3 linked regions of the Homo sapiens genome follow. The protein of the gene in region 3 interacts with the protein of the main gene of each other region in a biochemical or structural test. Each region holds a gene or a part of one and is shown on either strand. Other genes may lie near its edges.

The links. Proteins that work in one complex are often made in the same cells at the same time.
Region 1: the proteins of STRN4 (region 3) and TNIK form a complex in vitro, tested with the Homo sapiens proteins (one study listed by BioGRID).
Region 2: the proteins of STRN4 (region 3) and MAP4K1 form a complex in vitro, tested with the Homo sapiens proteins (one study listed by BioGRID).

What each region holds. Positions count from the first base shown.
Region 1 is NC_000003.12:171,065,369-171,072,405, forward strand, and holds part of TNIK (TRAF2 and NCK-interacting protein kinase), read right to left. Parts: intron 5,956-7,037; coding exon 5,855-5,955; intron 3,630-5,854; coding exon 3,480-3,629; intron 1,368-3,479; coding exon 1,208-1,367; intron 959-1,207; coding exon 819-958; intron 1-818. UniProt on the Homo sapiens protein: Serine/threonine kinase that acts as an essential activator of the Wnt signaling pathway. Recruited to promoters of Wnt target genes and required to activate their expression. May act by phosphorylating TCF4/TCF7L2.
Region 2 is NC_000019.10:38,600,917-38,607,953, forward strand, and holds part of MAP4K1 (mitogen-activated protein kinase kinase kinase kinase 1), read right to left. Parts: intron 6,996-7,037; coding exon 6,948-6,995; intron 6,100-6,947; coding exon of another isoform or gene 5,980-6,099; intron 5,300-5,979; coding exon 5,257-5,299; intron 4,815-5,256; coding exon 4,652-4,814; intron 4,576-4,651; coding exon 4,493-4,575; intron 779-4,492; exon of another isoform or gene 610-778; coding exon 525-609; exon of another isoform or gene 497-524; intron 1-496. UniProt on the Homo sapiens protein: Serine/threonine-protein kinase, which plays a role in the response to environmental stress. Appears to act upstream of the JUN N-terminal pathway.
Region 3 is NC_000019.10:46,718,994-46,722,470, reverse strand, and holds the end of STRN4 (striatin-4), read left to right. Parts: intron 1-130; coding exon 131-229; intron 230-398; coding exon 399-485; intron 486-1,699; coding exon 1,700-1,869; 3' UTR 1,870-1,935; intron 1,936-2,132; 3' UTR 2,133-2,960; downstream 2,961-3,477. Other genes in the region: uncharacterized protein LOC107987269, read left to right, coding at 3,408-3,477. UniProt on the Homo sapiens protein: Calmodulin-binding scaffolding protein which is the center of the striatin-interacting phosphatase and kinase (STRIPAK) complexes.

The DNA of each region.
Region 1 (7,037 bases), on a different chromosome or scaffold from region 3:
GACCTTTGGGGAACTGGGGTGGACAAAGGGATATACAAAAATTCAACCCATCATACTGTTTTTCTATAGGCGTTTATGTCTGTGGCTTTGGGGACAGCATTTCTATGTTGGCCACAGCCACAAAGGATGAATTCACAAATGCAGTATGGCTTAGCTACTAAAACCTCGGGGTTACTCTACAGGGAGGGTAAGGGAGAAGCAGTACTGCTGCAGAATACCCCTCTGAGGTCACTGATCATGCCAGACGGACACAGCCAATTTCACTGGAAAACAGTTCACCTATGACATTTCAGAAGAAACATGGCTGGAATGACACAAGACATGGCACTAGTTGAGTTTGTGATTGTGCATTCCTTAAGGAATGGGTGACATTTTTAAAAAGCTTATATTTCTAAACGTCAAATGTTTTGGATTTAAAGGTGAATATAAGGTGATTGGTTAGGTCTTGAAAGTGACTTTGTGAAAAGTCTAAAAGTGGAAGTATAAAGTTGACCCACTGTGAGATGATTAATGATGGGCCAACTGCTCTAAGTGCTTAGGAGAATTTGGGGTGTCTGCTGAGTCATCAAAAGGCCTTTAGGCCACAAAGGTTTCTAAGAGGTTTACAAGAAATTTCTAAATGTTTTTATGTAGTTTTTGACATGTGAATAATATATTGAGTGCTCACATGGATCAAACCAAATAATGCCATTTCAAGATAATATTGATTGTTTAACACAGATGTGATTCAAATCAGTATAAAGGAAAATGAAGGTTTCACAGGTACCTGGTGGTCTCTTAAAATGCAAACACTAATGCAAATGTTGAAACGGATTTACCTTATCATTTCTTTCACATAGAAACTTTAACCTTTGAGCTCGCTTATGCATAAATACTCCATCCAAATGTCCTGTTTCCACTGACCGGATCTCAATAGCTTTCTCGCCCCAGCCCATTATCTGATTGGAATGAATGTAGGCTGTCAAAAGGAATTTCCAAAACTGCATTAAAAACATTAGATGGGCAATAACTCACAGCATCTGTTCACATCTTAACCACAAAAATGACAAACGACTTGAGATAAATGGACAAAGCAAGTCTTACAAGAGTTATTCACAGATTTTTTTTTTTTTTTTTTTGTGGAATCAAATGGTTGTTTCACATTTCTTGATTTTCGTTTCATTTGGGGGGTGTAACTGCTGAAGGAGATAAGGAATGGTTAACCTACCCACAGACGTGGGCATTTCTCCCCATTGGAGCACCACATCCTTAGTTATCCGGCCATAGGTGTTTACATACACCCCCTCATCCTCATAGCAAACAAGCATTTCCATTCCATCTGTTTTAGGCAAGATGACAATAGCATGAGGAGTGATATTGCCCTGAATCTAGAAGACAAAGAAAAGCCAAGCATTATTCTTTTAAAAAATAAAACACCTTGACTATTCATCTCTAACAACTGCAAAAAAGAGGTTTTTGTTTATTTTCATTGTCACCCTAAAGACTGAAATTTGCTTTAATTTAACCACTGACTTGTAAAATACCCTGGTAAATCAAACTTAGTCACTAGATTAAAAATTCAATTTACCTGTTCCTAAAAAGAGCATGTAAATCTATGGCACACCTACTATGTGCCAGTCATGGGGCCCTTTACATATATAATTTCTAGTACCTACAATAGCTCCCCAAGGTAGATAGCTTTGTTTACAGATGAGGAAACTGCATCTCAGAAGGGCTTTGTGTCTTAACCAAAGTTGTGCTAGTATTTGTTGGTAGAGTTGGGATTTGTGTATATCTTGCTGACGTTGAAATTAATGTGTTTTCTATTAGCACAACCACTTCCAAAAGAAGATGAGGAGAATGTAAGCCAGCTGAATCTAATGGAGATAGCTTAAGTGGGGTCAAAATGAACTACCAAAATAATCTGTGAAAAAAAAATATATATATAGGATTGTTTATCCGGGTGTCTAAATGCCAGAATAATTCATGGCTTGGTTAGAAAAAATATTTAGAATGACCACTCATTAAAAAAAATCATTATTGCCGCACACAGTGGCTCATGCCTGTAATCCCAGCACTTTGGGAGGCCGAGGCGGGCGGATCACGACGTCAGGAGATCGAGACCATCCTGGCTAACACGATGAAACCCCGTCTCTACTAAAAATACAAAAAATTAGCCGGGCATGATGGTGGGCACCTGTAGTCCCAGCTACTCGGGAGGCTGAGGCAGGAGAATGGTGTGAACCCAGGAGAGGCGGAGCTTGCAGTGAGCCGAGATCACGCCACTGTACTCCAGCTTGGGTGACAGAGCGAGACTCCGTATCCAAAAAAAAAAAAAAAAAAATCACTATTGAAATAAGTGTATATTAATTTGTTCTAGGAAAGGAAATGTGATGTTGTTGTGATCCCCTAGTTGAGAATGCCATGGCAGCCCAACATGTGCTTGACAGATTGGACTAAGAGAGTTGAGGATTATCATAGTTACACCTTAGCTGCCTCACCAGGAATGTGAGCTGTGAGTCCTTGTGTTCACCCACATCCACATGAGTTAAAAGTGGTAATAATGCAGCAATGAATGGCAGTCGTGTGTGTGTATGTAATATACTGAAACAACTTCTTTTAGTTATTGCGTTTCATTAGAATAAAGTCTTAAAACTCTCAAAATACCAGTCAGCGGTAGCTTCAAACATTCCTGATAAATAGTTTCTCCTGTGTGTTAGTCTTGGGATTACACACAGGACACACACTTTACACTACACTTAATCCTAATAAGTGAATCCATGTGCAGCATTTCCCTTTAACAGTTATGTTTCAAGCAATATGTCAGGATAGTAATATGAATATTTTAGGGCTAATAAGAAGATCTACAATTTGCAGGGCCCTGTACCAACTGCTTTAGATCCATTACCTCATTTAATACTAATGATAATCCTATGGGATAAGTCTTTTTATCCATATTTTACAGATGCGAAAGCTGAGGATTGGAGAGGCTGCCTACTGTGTCCATTACTGCAAAGCTAATACATGCTAGAGCCACTGTGTCTGACTCCAGTGTACCACACTGCCCTCAAGCTGAAGAGAGGAACTAAAAATAGCAAAAAAAGAATTTTCTCCAATAAATTAGTACCTGACCATTGGCTTTCTCTAACATAAAATGAACGAATTTCCCTTCAAAAACTGAATGTGGAAACTTGTCTACCGAATATAATTCATGCCCTTGAAAGAAATATGTCATATTCATTTTAATCTAAAGTCCAAAGAGACAACATGTAAATGCCAAATGATTTCTATTATGTATTCCCCAATTTTAGGAAGTCATAAAAATTAGTTAAATTTATATATTTTAGTTATTAAAAGCAGTATACTTAATGAAGAACGAAAGTCCATTTGCTGGTTAGTAAAGTGTGCATGACTTCTACTAAAACTATGCAAAACAAATCTCTTTCTACATGCAGGCTGTTGTACAGAGAGCCCTTGAAAGTCTACTTCTGAGTACTTACATGAGATGGTATGTAGATATCATAAGAGTTTCCTGAATCAACATCAATTACATGGAAACCAGTGTGTGAACCAAAAATAACCTTTAATCTTTGACCTTCTTCTACCGTGAGATCAACTAGCAGAGGCTTGTGCTGGAGATCTGCAAAAGACTTTAAAAATCACCCCATTAGTATCCGCATCACTCAAAGAGGCATCTTAATTTTTTTCCTTTAGCCACTGTCTAGAGGAAGTTAACTTCTAACTTTATTAAAGTGAAAAACTAGAAAATTTCTCTTTCAGTTTTAGGTCTGTTGATATTCTGGCCCTAGGAGGAAGGGTCTAGCATCCATTTGTGCCCCTTTCTCTACCCTTTGTCCTTCGGGGCAGTGAAGTTTAAGTTGGTGCACAGGTGTAAATTTTGATAGTGGTAATGTATATTAAAAACCTGGTGCCTGGGTATTGCTGTTTTTTCCTGTTTATTTCTGGCCTTTGTCCTCTGAAGAAGGCCCAGTCACCTCTCTGGCCCCCCTCTTTCCCATGTGGCAACCAGGCCCATCCACAGCAACTACCCTTTCAGAGACAGCCTGGGAGGGACAGCCAAGGCCGGCTGTTTTCTCAGCCTGTTTAGTATTAATGGGCATGCTCTGGTTTGGATTTTTCTTCAGTGAATGAGTAGGCATAAGATTGGCACTTTCTCTTAATGTTGGAATCTGAGACTTGGGTTTGGGTGGTAGAGAAAGAGGTGGGAGTGGAACATCACAAGATTGATGGCTTGCATTGACTATTTGGGTTTAACTAGAAAGCAAAAAGAGAGATCTTGCCAAGTTTGTCAAAGTTCTCTGTGTTTGAATCCAGAGCCCAAGCCCCAACTAACTGTCAAGTGTTCCTCTGCCATTTTCCTTTGCTATTTTTTAACCACGCTCTACCTTTGGGCCTTGAGATCTGGGAGAGCATTTGTGAAACTACAATTGCCTTAACTATAATGCCACTGCTACCTCTCAGACCCTTCTCTTCTCATCTTTTGCTAACACCATTCTGACAGCATGGGAAGCTCTAGCGTCCTGTCCTTGTCCTATGGGAAGGCTTGGCCTCTTGCCAGTTCCACTCTTTCCTGTTCAAGTCTTTGCCTTTGCTCTTCCCTCTTTCTGGGCTGGATAGGGTCTGTCAGAAAGAACATTTTGCACTCTCTCATGTGTCTCTGGGTCATAAAATAATGGCAATAACTTCAGAGCAAGAATGGGAATGGGATGTTGATTGAAAAGCTTTTGTGGAGATAGATTTTGGCAGAACAGGAGTACCACTTTGGCTTTTAGGAGTTATCCCTTGTTATTAGTAACCTAATGCATTCCAATTTTTTTCCATAAAAGTGAGGTCATGGAGGGGAGCCCATTTCCATTAATGAATCTATTTTCTTGAGCACATCAGAAGCCATCTGCCCTAAGGGAACAAGATAGAAGTGATTCAGCTCTGAAGTGGGCCTACATGGTGTTCCAAGGGCAGTTTTGCCCTTCATGAGAATGTGGCAGAAAATAATAAGGAGCCAAATGGAGATAACAGTCATAAAGGTGGGGAGAAAAAGTGAGAGCCAATGAGACATAAAGAAGTAGACAGACATAAGCTGAGAGAGAGAGAGACAGAGAGAGATCAGAGAGAGAGAGTGAGAGAAAACAGAAGATAAGTTCACTTGGGCTATGGATAGGTTATGCGGCTCTGAACACATCTGGGTGCCTGTAAGTACTGGTCCTCCTGGTATTCGGGTGTCAGCTTCATGAGCTGGGGTCAACAGGACTAGCATATCCCCATCCCACTCCTGGCAAATCTCATGAGTGACCAATCCAACCATGGTGGGTACAGACTTAGACAAGGTAAAAAAATGAAAAGGCAATCAAAATAGAAGAATGCAGAGAAACTAGGTCATTTCTGTAAGTTAGCACTGGGGACATATAAGCATCACCTGAGTTTTAGGGACTTCATTCAGAAAGATTTATGAGGATTAAAAGAGACTCAGTTTAACTCTGAGATTCAGTGCTGCCATTTGTCTGCCTTTTTCAAACAAAATATCAGGGAATACCCTGGTTTAGGTGGCTTTATAACAAATGTCATTGCATAAGATCATAATCAATGCTATGCCTACTAACCATTCTAAATGCCTCTTGAGGATGATGATTCATAGATCTCAAGGAGGAGGGCATACCCAAATTTTAATCTAATTTTATAGCATTTACAAATATTCAGTCTTTACTTTTGAAACAATAAACCCTAGAGTACCTACACTTTTAAAACAGGTTTATTATCTATATGAAAATTGGTATTGGTCTATATGGACTATTTTATTAATGGGTAGAAACGGAAAATTTTTAAAAAGCACATTTTAGATAATCACATCCCTGCTTACCTTAAATGCCATGAATTTATGATACGGTTTAGGAGCCCAAGCATATATTTCCACAGCATTCTTTAAGGCAATCACCAAAAATTTGATCCTTTCATATTTAACTGTAATAGAAAAATTATGAGTGAAAAAGTACATCAATTTACTCAAGTTCTTTGTATTAATATTAATGAATGTATAAGCAACAATATGTAAATTTAAATATTGATGTTGGGTGTCAGCTTCATGAAGGTGATATTCCTGGTGTGGGATTTTTTCATAGATACTGATTTAGCTTCCCTTAGCGAACTTTGGTTGGCAGAATACTTATGGCTTTTGCTTTATATTGAAGACTTTTCATCATCCAGAGATATAACTGCTTAGGACTGTCTTTAACACTAGGTCTTGATGTTGATATTCATTGTAATAAGAATGTGCATAATTTCCTTCATGTTAGCTTGCCTGGCTTTTACGTTCACCCATATTTAAGTAGCTGAGAGCAGATATGGCAAGATGGTAGAAAAATTAGCAAATGGGCAGATATAAAGGCTGCCATTTGCTTATTATTTATATTTGAATTCCAATTACCAAGTGAAATAATTGCTTATTTATGCTTCTAACGAAAGGGGGGTGTTAGGAGTCTTGGGTTCTGTTAGTGGCTTAAAGGGCTACGAATACTGACAAATCCTTTTACTCTTTAGAAAGATGGAATATTAAGCATTGTAAATTCTATGGACAGAAGCTTAGTTAAATGATTGAGTCCCCACAATGCTTTTGCCTACACAAAGTAGTACTCAATAAATGCTTATTGAATGGAAAAATGGAAGAACAGACTGTTGTCTGGCATTCTCTTCATTACTCTTACCTACGTGTGTGTCTCTGATAGAATAATAAGCAATGTTTACGGTGATGACCTTGAGAAATTGAACAATCCTTTAAGTGCCTTCTGAATCTTTTGCTGTTAAGTGTGGATTCTAATTCTTAGAGAATTCGTAATCCACAGTTGGTACACATGGCAGTCAGTTTCTTGGTAAAATATCTCAAGAAACAGAATATTCTGAGTCCTAAAGAAACTAGGTAGGAAAAATTTTAATATACTTAAATGACATTAAGTTTCCAGTTACTTGCTTTATAACTTTTCATGACATAAAGTGTTTATTAGACTATTTTTGCTGATCTCTTCATCTGAAACCTAGGAAAAGATCCA
Region 2 (7,037 bases), 8.1 Mb from region 3:
TGCCTCAGCCTCCTGAGTAGCTGGGATTATAGGCACGTGCTACCACGCCTGGCTAATTTTTGTGTTTTTAGTAGAGACGAGGTTTTACCACGTTGGCCAGGCTGGTCTCAAACTCCTGACCTCAAATGATCCGCCCGCCTCCGCCTCCCAAAGTGCTGGGATTACAGGCGTGAGCCACCATGCCCGGCCTACCTAGCTTCTTTTGTATTTTTAGTAGAGACGGGGTTTCACCATGTTGGCCAGGCTGGTCTTGAACTCCTGACCTCAAATGATTCACCCGCCTCAGCCTCCCAAAGTGCTGGGATTACAGGTGTGAGCCACCACACCTGGCTGCCCTCTATGCATCTTTGATCACCAAATCCTGAGTGTAAGGACAAGCTCCGCCCCTGTTTCAGCCTGGCCACACCCCAACTCCATTAAGCTCCTCCCCGTCCCTGCCTTTGTGCCTTCCTTAGGCTTCTCCCCACCCCTACTTTTGCTCTCCCATTCCCTACAGGATCTCCTTGACCCTCCAGAATGCCCACCCTTGGTGGAGGGATGTGTCCAGGCGGCCGTGCTGTGGATCCGGAGGGGGCAGCCATTGAACAACTTTACGAGAAGGGCACATCCCTGGGCAGGTCGCCGCGGGGCCAGGCAGCAGATCCGGCAAAGAGAGCAGGGAACAGGAAGGGGCAGTGGTTACGACTTTGGAGCGAGAGTGCCAAGGTTCAAATCCTGCCTCTTACCTTGGTGCAATTTCCCATAATCTATCCCTGTAATACACTTTTTCATACATTGAGTTTTCTTTTCAGTTTGTTTTTGTTTTTTTTTGTTGTTGTTATATATTTCTTTTTTTAGTTTTTCCTCCACTATCCTAAATCATCAGCATTTGTTTTTTTTAAGACAGAGTCTCACTCGGTTGCCCAGGCTGGAATGCAATGACATGATCTCAGCTCACTACAACCTCTGCTTCCCAAGTTCAACTGATTCTCATGCCTAAGCCTTCTGAGTAGCTGGGACCAAAGGCGTGTGCCACCACACCCAGCTAATTTTTGTATTTTTAGTAGAGATGGAGTTTTGCCATGTTGCCCAGGCTGGTCTTGAACTCTTGGCCTCATGTGATTCACCTGCCTCAGCCTCCCAAAGTGCTGAGATTACAGGCGTGAGGCACCACTCCCAGCTGTCAGTTTTGTTTTTGGAGATGGAGTCTCACTCTGTTGCCCAGGCTGGAGTGCAGTGATGCAATCTCAGCTCACTGCAACCTCCACCTCCTGGGCTCAAGCAATTCTTCTGCCTCAGCCTCCTGAATAGCTGGGATTACTGGCACACAACACCACGCCTGGCTAATTTTTGTATTTTAGTAGAGACAGGGTTTCGCCATGTTGGCCAGGCTGGTCTCGAACTCCTGACCTCAGGTGATGCGTCTGCCTTGGTCTCCCAAAGTGCTGGGATTACAGGCATGAGCCACTGTGCCTGGCCAGCATATATATATATACACATATACATATATATATAGACACACACACACACACACACATATATATACACACACACATACATATATACACACATATACATATATACACACATATACATATATACATATATACACGTGTACATATATACGCATATACATATATACACATATACATATATATACACACATATACATATATACATATATATACACATGTACATATATACGCATATACATATATATACACATATACATATATATACACACCTATACATATATACATATATACACATGTACATATATACGCATATACATATATACACACATATACATGTATACATATATACACACATATACATGTATACATATATACACATGTACATATATACGCATATACATATATACACATATACATATATACACACATACATATATACATATATACACATGTACATATATACGCATATACATATATACACATATACATATATACACATGTACATATATACTTATATACACATGTACATATATACACACATGTACACATATACGCATATACATATATACACATACATATATACACACATATACACATGCACATATATACGCATATACATATATACATATACATATATACACACATATACATGTATACATATATACACATGTACATATATACGCATATACATATACACATATACATATATACACATGTACATATATACACATGTACATATATACACATGTACATATATACGCATATACATATATACACACATATACATGTATACATATATACACATGTACATATATACGCATATACATATATACACATACATATATACACATATACATATACACATATATATACACATGTACATATATACGCATATACATATATACACATACATATACACACACACATACATGTATACATATATACACATGTACATATATACGCATATACATATATACACATATACATATATACACACATATACATATATACACATGTACATATATATGCATATACATATATATACACGTATACATATATACACACATATACATGTATATGTGTGTGTATATATGTATATGTATATATGTATGATTAATTATGCTATGCATTTCATCTTTGAATCATTTCCAGTGCTGGAGGTATAAATTATACATACTTTTAGCCGGTAGCCAACCAGGCACGGCTGTAATCCCACCAGTTTGGGAGGCCGAGGTGGGAGGATCACTTAAGCCCAGGAGTTCAGGACCAGCTTGGGCAACATAGTGAGACCCTGCCTCTATAAAACATTTTTTTAAAAATTAGCCAAGCTGGGCCGGGCGCGGTGGCTCACGCCTGTAATGCCAGCACTTTGGGAGGCCGAGGCTGGCAGATAACTTGAGGTCAGGAGTTTGAGACCAGCCTGGCCAACATGGCAAAACTCCGTCTCTACTAAAAATACAAAAATTAGCTGGGCGTGGTGGTGGGCGCCTGTAGTCATGGCTACTTAGGAGGCTGAGGCAGGAGGATCACTTAGACTGGGGAGGCAGAGGTTGCAGTGAGCCAAGATAGCACCACTGCACTCCAGCCTGGGCGACAGAGTGAGACTCCATCTCAGAAAAAAAAAAAAAAAATTAGCCAAGCGCTACTAGGGAGGGTGAGGTGCATGGATTGCTTGAGTCTCCGAGGTCAAGGCTGCAGTGAGCCATGATCGCGCCACTGCACTCCAGCAGCCTGGGCGACAGAGCGAGATACTATCTCAAAAAAAAAAAAAAAAAAAAAAAAAGACTTTAGAGAGTTCTAATTCATTTTATGCATTTGTTGGCAAATTTGATGCCACAAAGGTGCATTATCACAACACTGACTACGTGTGTAGGCATTATGCATGTACGTAAAAACACTGAAACTTCCTGAATAAAGAGATGTTCTTTTTGTACATCTCCATTTATGAGAGGTAAAATTTCTTGAGATCTTGGCTCTTTGGGCAACTGCATATGTGGTAGTGACTCATGGAGGTTTTGATGGATCTTGTCAAAAGACTCTAACTTCTGGACTCAAGCAATCCTCCCACCTCAGCTTCCCAAGTAGCTGGGACCATAGGTGTGTGCCACCACGCCCAGCTAATTTTTTAAATTTTTAGTAGCTGGGCGCGGTGGCTCATGACTGTAATCCCAGCACTTTGGGAGGCCGAGGCGGGCAGATCACAAGGTCAGGAGATCGAGACCATCCTGGCTAACACGGTGAAACCCCGTCTCTACTAAAAATACAAAAAATTAGCCGGGCCTGGTGGCGGGCACCTGTAGTCCCAGCTACTCGGGAGGCTGAGGCAGGAGAATGGTGTGAACCTGGGAGGCGGAGCTTGCAGTGAGCCGAGATCGCGCCACTGCACTCCAGCCTGGGTGACACAGTGAGACTCTGTCTCAAAAAAAAAAAAGCATGCCAGACGCGGTGGCTCATGCCTGTAATCCCAGCACTTTGGGAGGCCGAGGCAGGTGGATCACCTGAGGTCAGGAGTTCAAGACGAGCCTAACCAACATGGTGAAACCCCACCTCTACTAAAAATACAAAATTAGCCGGGCATGGTGCTGCATTGCCTGTAATCTCAGCTACTCCGGAGGCTGAGGCAGGAGAATCACTTGAACTAGGGAGGCGGAGGTTGTAGTGAGCTAAGATCGCGCCACTGTACTCTAGCCTGGGCAACAAGCAAAACTCCGTCTTTAAAAAAAAAAAAAAAAAAGCAGAAACAACAATCCTGCCTCAGCCTGCCTCCTCAAAGGTATTTATATGACCTTGGGTAAGCCACTTACCCTCTCTGTGCTTCAATTTCCCCATTTGTGAAATGGGGGATAACATCTCTGTGATATCTTCTTCACTCTGTGAAGCTTTATGCCATGTAATGATAGGAGATAAGTGTAGGGCACAGAGAAGCGCTCAACAAATGTCACCTGTTGTTACTGTCAGTCCTGCCACCCCCTCCCCACCCCACCAGGCATCCCCAGCCCCGTCCAGAGGTGTAAGTCCTCAGCAGAGCTGAACCTCACCTTTCTCTTCATCTTTTCCTTCTTGGGGGGCAGAAGTGGGGGCTTGTCAAGCTCCCGGGAGGGTGGGTTCCAGAGTGAGGGTTCTGAGAGGGGTTAGGAGAAAATCAGCCCCCAAGAACCCCCAACCCTCCCGCCCTCCACCCTAGCCTGTCCCATTACCTGAATGGGCGGTGAGGTGGGGGCTGCTGGTGGATGGGGGAGGCCCAGGACGGGGGCTGTTTGGTGGGGGCCCACTGGCACACCGGACCAGCACCCCCGGGCTCAGCTGCCCATCATCCCCCATGCTCCCAGGACCCTCGTCTGATGGAGAACGGAACTTGGGCTTTGGAGACGGGAATGGAGCGTGGGGAAATACATCAGATGATCTCAGAGAGGGCACCCTTTTGCAACTCAAGTCCCTGCCTCCACCAGAACTAACAGCTGTGGCTCTGACCCACCCCCCCGACAACATCTTGTGCCCCCTCCAGCCTTCCCCTGACATCCCCAGCCTGGACATCAACACACTTCAGAAACTAATGGGTTAATGCTGGATATATAGCAGGGGCTTCCTAGGACCAGCTACTGACCAGTGTCTAAGAGGCTAAATATTTTGAATCCGACCCTGAGGTTGAGGGATGCCACTTCCAGATCCCAATGTAGCCATCATCCTGGTCTCCCCAATTCCCTGCCCTGGAGAGCCCAGTATCCCAGCATCTAAGGACCTGGCCTCCTGGCCCCCAGTGGCCCTGAGGCCCCAGCCTCCCAGCTCTGGCCCAGGGCCTTACCTTGGGGGGAAGTGGAGGAGGTGTGTCCTCTGCAGGGGTGGGGCTGAAACACAAAGATGGGTTAAATAGCTGGGGGGCTGGGGAACAAGGACTCGGGGAAGATGGCATGGTTCTGGGCTGGAGGCCCGGGACTGGGGTCTGAGGTGAGGAGGATTAAGGGATGACTGGTTCTGCCTGGAGCAGAGGATTAAAGGATTAATAGCCAGGCTGGACATAGTGGCTCATGCCTGTAATCGCAGTGCTTTGGGAGGCCAGGGCAGGATGGCTTGAGCCCAGGAATTCGAGACTAGCCTGGGCAGCATAGCAAGACCTTGTCTCCAGAAAAAAATTAAAAATTAGCCAGGCGTGGCAGGTGCGCCTGTGACCGCAGCTACTCAGGAGGCTGAGGTGGGAGGATTGCTTGAGCCTGGGAGGTTGAGGCTGCAGTAAGCCATCATTGCACTCCTGCACTTAGCCTTGGTGCCAAAACAAATCATGAGTTTGAGACCAGCCTGGACAACATGGCAAGACCCCATCCTACAAAAAAATGATTAGCCTGTTTCCAAAAAAAAGACTAATAACAGTAACAGCAACTCTTGGAGGTGGAGTGCTGACAGTGCACCACGGCTTTGCACCTTTACACCACCTAGTAACACAGGTGACATCAGCGCCGTGGCCCTGCTCTCCCTGTGCTGGCGCCACACACAGGCTGTCGCACGTGATGGGTGAAGTGAGTGCGCGCACCTGGATGGAGCCTGACTCGGCCTGTGGGCTGGGGAGTATGGGGGCCTGGGCTGACTGTTGGGTCTGGATCTGGGGCTCAGTATCTGGTCTTTGGGAGATTTCCAGGTGCCAAGGTTCAGCCTGAGGGCGGGCAAAAAGATAGGAAAAGCTGAGGGCTGGGGCTGAAGGCTGGAGGGTGGGTCTGGGGTGAGAGTGACATTCGGGAGGAGTTTGAGACTGGGATGTGGCTGAGGGTGCAGGGTCATGGAGGATAGGTGGGGTCAAGTCAGAGATTGGAGCAGCAGCACATTCTAGAAGGAACTGGGGTCAGCTCTGGGGTGGAGAGCAGGTGGGGGGCTGACGCTGAGGGTCAAGTCAAAAGATTGTATAAGAAGATGGAAGGAGGCCAAGTGCAGTGGCTCACACCTGTAATCGCAGCACTTTGGGAGGCTGAGATGGGCGGATCATGAGGTCAGGAGTTTGAAACCAGCCTGGCCAACATGGTGAAACCCCATCTCTACTAAAAATACAAAAAATTAGCTGGGCATGGTGGCAGGTGCCTGTAATCCCAGCTACTCAGGAGGCTGAGACAGGAGAATCGCTTGAACCCGGGGAGCCGAGGTTGTAGTGAGCTGAGACTACGTCACTGCACTCCAGCCTGGGCCACAGAGTGAGACTCCATCTCAAAAAAAAAAAAAAAAAAAAAGAAGAAGGTGGAAGGAAAGAAGGAAAGTGGGAGCTGGAGCTGGGATCAGGTTGGGGGTCAGGGGTTGGAGGTGAAGGGTTAAGGGAGGTGGGGTTAGGGAACAGGGCCTAGGTAGCTGGGCAGAGGGGCTGCATTGAGGGTCTAATCAGGGCTCAGGGCTCGGGGCTAGAAGAAAGGCAGGGGTGCAGCGGGGTCAGGAGTGGAGGAAAGGCCACATCAGGGGATTGTAGGAAGGTGGGGGCTGAGGTGGGGCCTGTGGAGCTGCAGGCAGGGCCTCACTTACATGTCCACGTCGTCATAGTCATCGTCAGACGACTCTGACAGTTGCTTCCTGAAGGGTGACAGGTATGAGCCTTGGGGGCCTTGTCCACAT
Region 3 (3,477 bases):
CCCTCGCCCAGCCCCCCTCGACATCCAGGCAGAGGCTGGTGTAGGGGCTGTCACGCTGCGCTTGTGCCTCTGTTCTGGTCTTCCTGATTTTCTGCTTGACATCCTTCCCTCTTCCTGCGTTTTCCTTCAGGTCCAACCCAGATCAACCAAGTGGTGAGTCATCCAAACCAGCCTCTCACCATCACCGCCCACGACGACAGGGGCATCCGCTTCCTGGACAATCGGACAGGTGAGGCCTAGCCCCTTGTGCTCGTAGTGGGTGGGGAGGGCCAGAGGCAGGCAGCAGAGATGCTTGCGTCCCTGTGGGAGGCTCTGGGAGTCTCTCGTCCAGTCCTTTCACTCTCTCAGGCGAGGCCCAGAGTGGGAGGGGAACCTGCCACCCGCCCTTCTCGCCTCAGGTAAGCCGGTGCACTCCATGGTTGCACACCTGGACGCAGTCACCTGCCTAGCCGTGGACCCCAACGGCGCATTCCTGATGTCAGGAAGTAAGTTGAGCACACTAGTCCCACCAGGGTTGGGGAGAAGGGGAGGAAGAGGCCTGGGCACTGGCTCCAGGCAAGTGCTCAGGGGGCCCCGGGGGCCAGGGCTGGGGGAGGCTGGTCTGGGCGGGAATGACCGTGGTGACCATAGGGGGCAGCACAGTCCGCTGGGGCCCTCCTCTGGGTCACTGGAGCTGCATCGTCTCATTCGGCCTCTAAGCAGCCTGTGCGGTTGGTACTTTGATCCCCAGTTTACAGATGTGGGCCCTGATGCCCAGACGCTTTGTAACTTGGCCATTGAAGCTCTGTAACATCAGTCCAGGTCTACCTGGGGGTACCCGTGGGACTTCTGTGCTCCCACCCTGTTGTCTCTGGATAAGGGCATTGAGGCCAGCAACGTGGCTGTGCTTAGAAGGGATGGAGTGTGACGTGGGTGGGTGGAGAAGGAGACTGGAGGTCGCTGTGGGGGTGAAGGGTGAGGCCTGCAGTGAGTGCAGCAGTGAGTGTGTGTGCACAGAGGCGCAGGCCGTGGTGTTGGAGGCTGTGGCTGGGCTCTGCCTCCGGGCCTGTGCTGGCAGCCTCTGGTGGGTGAGGGGCTGGTCAGTGAGCTCCAGCCCAGTGCCCAGACAGGGCTCTATTCTGGGGGCCACTAGACAGTGGAGGGAGCTGAGCCTTTGCCCTGCCTGATCCTCTTGACCCTAAATTAAACTTCTCCTCGCCAGGGCCCTGCCCAGCCTGCCGTCCTCTCCCCTCTTCTCCCCAAGTCCCTGCTAAGGCTCTTGTGGCCACCCCCACCTCCTGCCTCAGGACCTTTCCCGCCTGTCCTTCTGCCTGGAAGGCTCCCTGCATTCCTCCTGGGGCCATTCTGTCCTCACACTGACCGGCTGGGTTGCTTTCTTCTTTCTCTTCCTGTTGCCCAGCTGCAGCGTCAGTGCTGCGGGGCAGGGAGAGTTGCCTGTTTTGTTCACTGCCCCTGCCGCCCTGGGGCTCAGTGTGCAGTAGCTGCTCAAGAAATGCTGGGGGATGAGATGGACTGTGGACAGGAGGGGACCAGGGTTCTCCTTTGGGCGGGCCACAGGAGGTGATGAGCAGAGGGTGAGAGAGGAGAGTTGAGCCCCACTTCCCCTGAGGCCTTTGGACAAGGCCAGGTGAGGGGTTCCAGGGCTGCGTCTGAGCGAGGAGCCCAGTGACCACCCCTTCTGTCCCCGACACATGTGCAGGCCATGACTGCTCCCTGCGTCTCTGGAGCCTGGACAACAAAACGTGCGTGCAGGAGATCACGGCCCACCGCAAGAAGCACGAGGAGGCCATCCACGCTGTTGCCTGCCACCCCAGCAAGGCCCTCATTGCCAGTGCTGGCGCTGATGCCCTGGCCAAGGTCTTCGTATGATGCCCACCTGGCCCTGCCCTGGCCGCCACGCTGGCTGGGGTGTAGGGCCGGGCAGGTGGGGCTGAGGTGAGGGCAGAAACCCCGCATTCTGAGTCTCTGCACGCCCATGCCTAGTACTGCCAGGTGTGCTGAGCCCCGCAGTCCAGTCAGGGGCGTCCTGTGAGAATCACTGGGGGAGCCCTGGGCATGCAGGGGAGGGGTTGAGGCCTTAGAGGCGCCCTAGAGGCGGCGGCTCAGTCTCCCCTCCCTTCTCTTTCCCGCAGGGGACTCCCAGCCTCGCTGGAGGTGCAGAGGCCTGGCCTCTGTCTGTTTGCCATGGAGCCTGGTGGTGCTAACGGCCCTTTCCCCAGGAATCCCTCCCCAACGGCTGCCTTCCCCAAGCATCCAGCCTGGGGATGGGCCCCTTTCAGGAATCACCCCCGAGGATGGCCTCGGGGTTTCCCCCTGTGCCCTGACAGCCGCTCCTGGTATCAGAGCTGCTTTCCAGAGGGCAGCACAGCCAGGGCCGGGTGTCTTTAGGGATCAGTTTTTCCAAGACTCCAGAAGGTGCCAGGTTCTCCCCTTGAGCTCCTGCTCCCCCATCCCCCATCCTCCCAGACCTGGGCAGGAGCTGTGCTGGGAGAAAGGGTGGCAGCCGGGAGCCTCAGAGCTGAGCCCCGGCCTGGCTGCCCCTCCCCTCCGGCCCTCTCCACTGCTTTCCAGACACTAACCAAGGCTTCCAGGCCAGGGATTGCCCAACACTCCTAGGGCAGCCCTCCCAGCGCCCCATGGGGTCGCCCATGGGTAGAGACGGCTTTCTTGTGCCCCTCCCTGGGGCATGGAGGGTGGAGTGGGCCTCGGGTCCCCCTGAACTCCCTGTATATCTGTATAAATAACGGGATTTTCATGGCGCCGCCCCACCCGCATTATCACTGTGTGATGGTCTCAGTCAGTCTCCTCCCTGTCTCCACTCTTTCCCTCTATTTATTTCACTCTCTTGTTTGGTTCTACCCTGCACCCTCGGTCCCCTTCCAGGTTCCTGTTTATAAGCCCCAACCCCTCTGTCCCCATCTTGTATGTGAAAACTTGTCTCAATAAACCCTTTGGAGTAAGATGGGTGACGGTGCCATCTGTTGAGGGCACTGGGGACTTTGGGGGAGGAGTGACCGGCTCTGCCTGGGTTGGGTGGAGTTTGGAGAGAGGGGATATGATGGGTTGGGGTTTTGTGGTAGGGCAGCAGGGGCCGGAGACGGGCCCAGAGCTTGGGTGGGGTGTGGGTGGAGAGAAGTGGAGGCACTGGACCGAATCTCCTTGTGCCCTTTCTGTCCCTAAGTGCTCCCTCCCCAGGGGTAGAGCCCTGGGGAGCAGATACTATGATGACAGTCCAGCTGAAGCCTCAGCCCCGCCTGGGATGTGTGAGGGTGGTGGCGAGGCCAAAGGGCTGGTGCCCAGAGGACGTAAACCCCCTTCCTGTTCCCATCCCAGGCCCACAAGGAGCAGGGAGGGAAAAGGCTGCACCTGCCAGTGGAGGATGATGGCTTTGGGGCGCAGGCTCCTCCATGCTGGGAGGAGGTGCCGCAGGTGCCCGAGCCCTCGTGGCTCATGTCCTGATGCGTCCCTCCTTTCCCT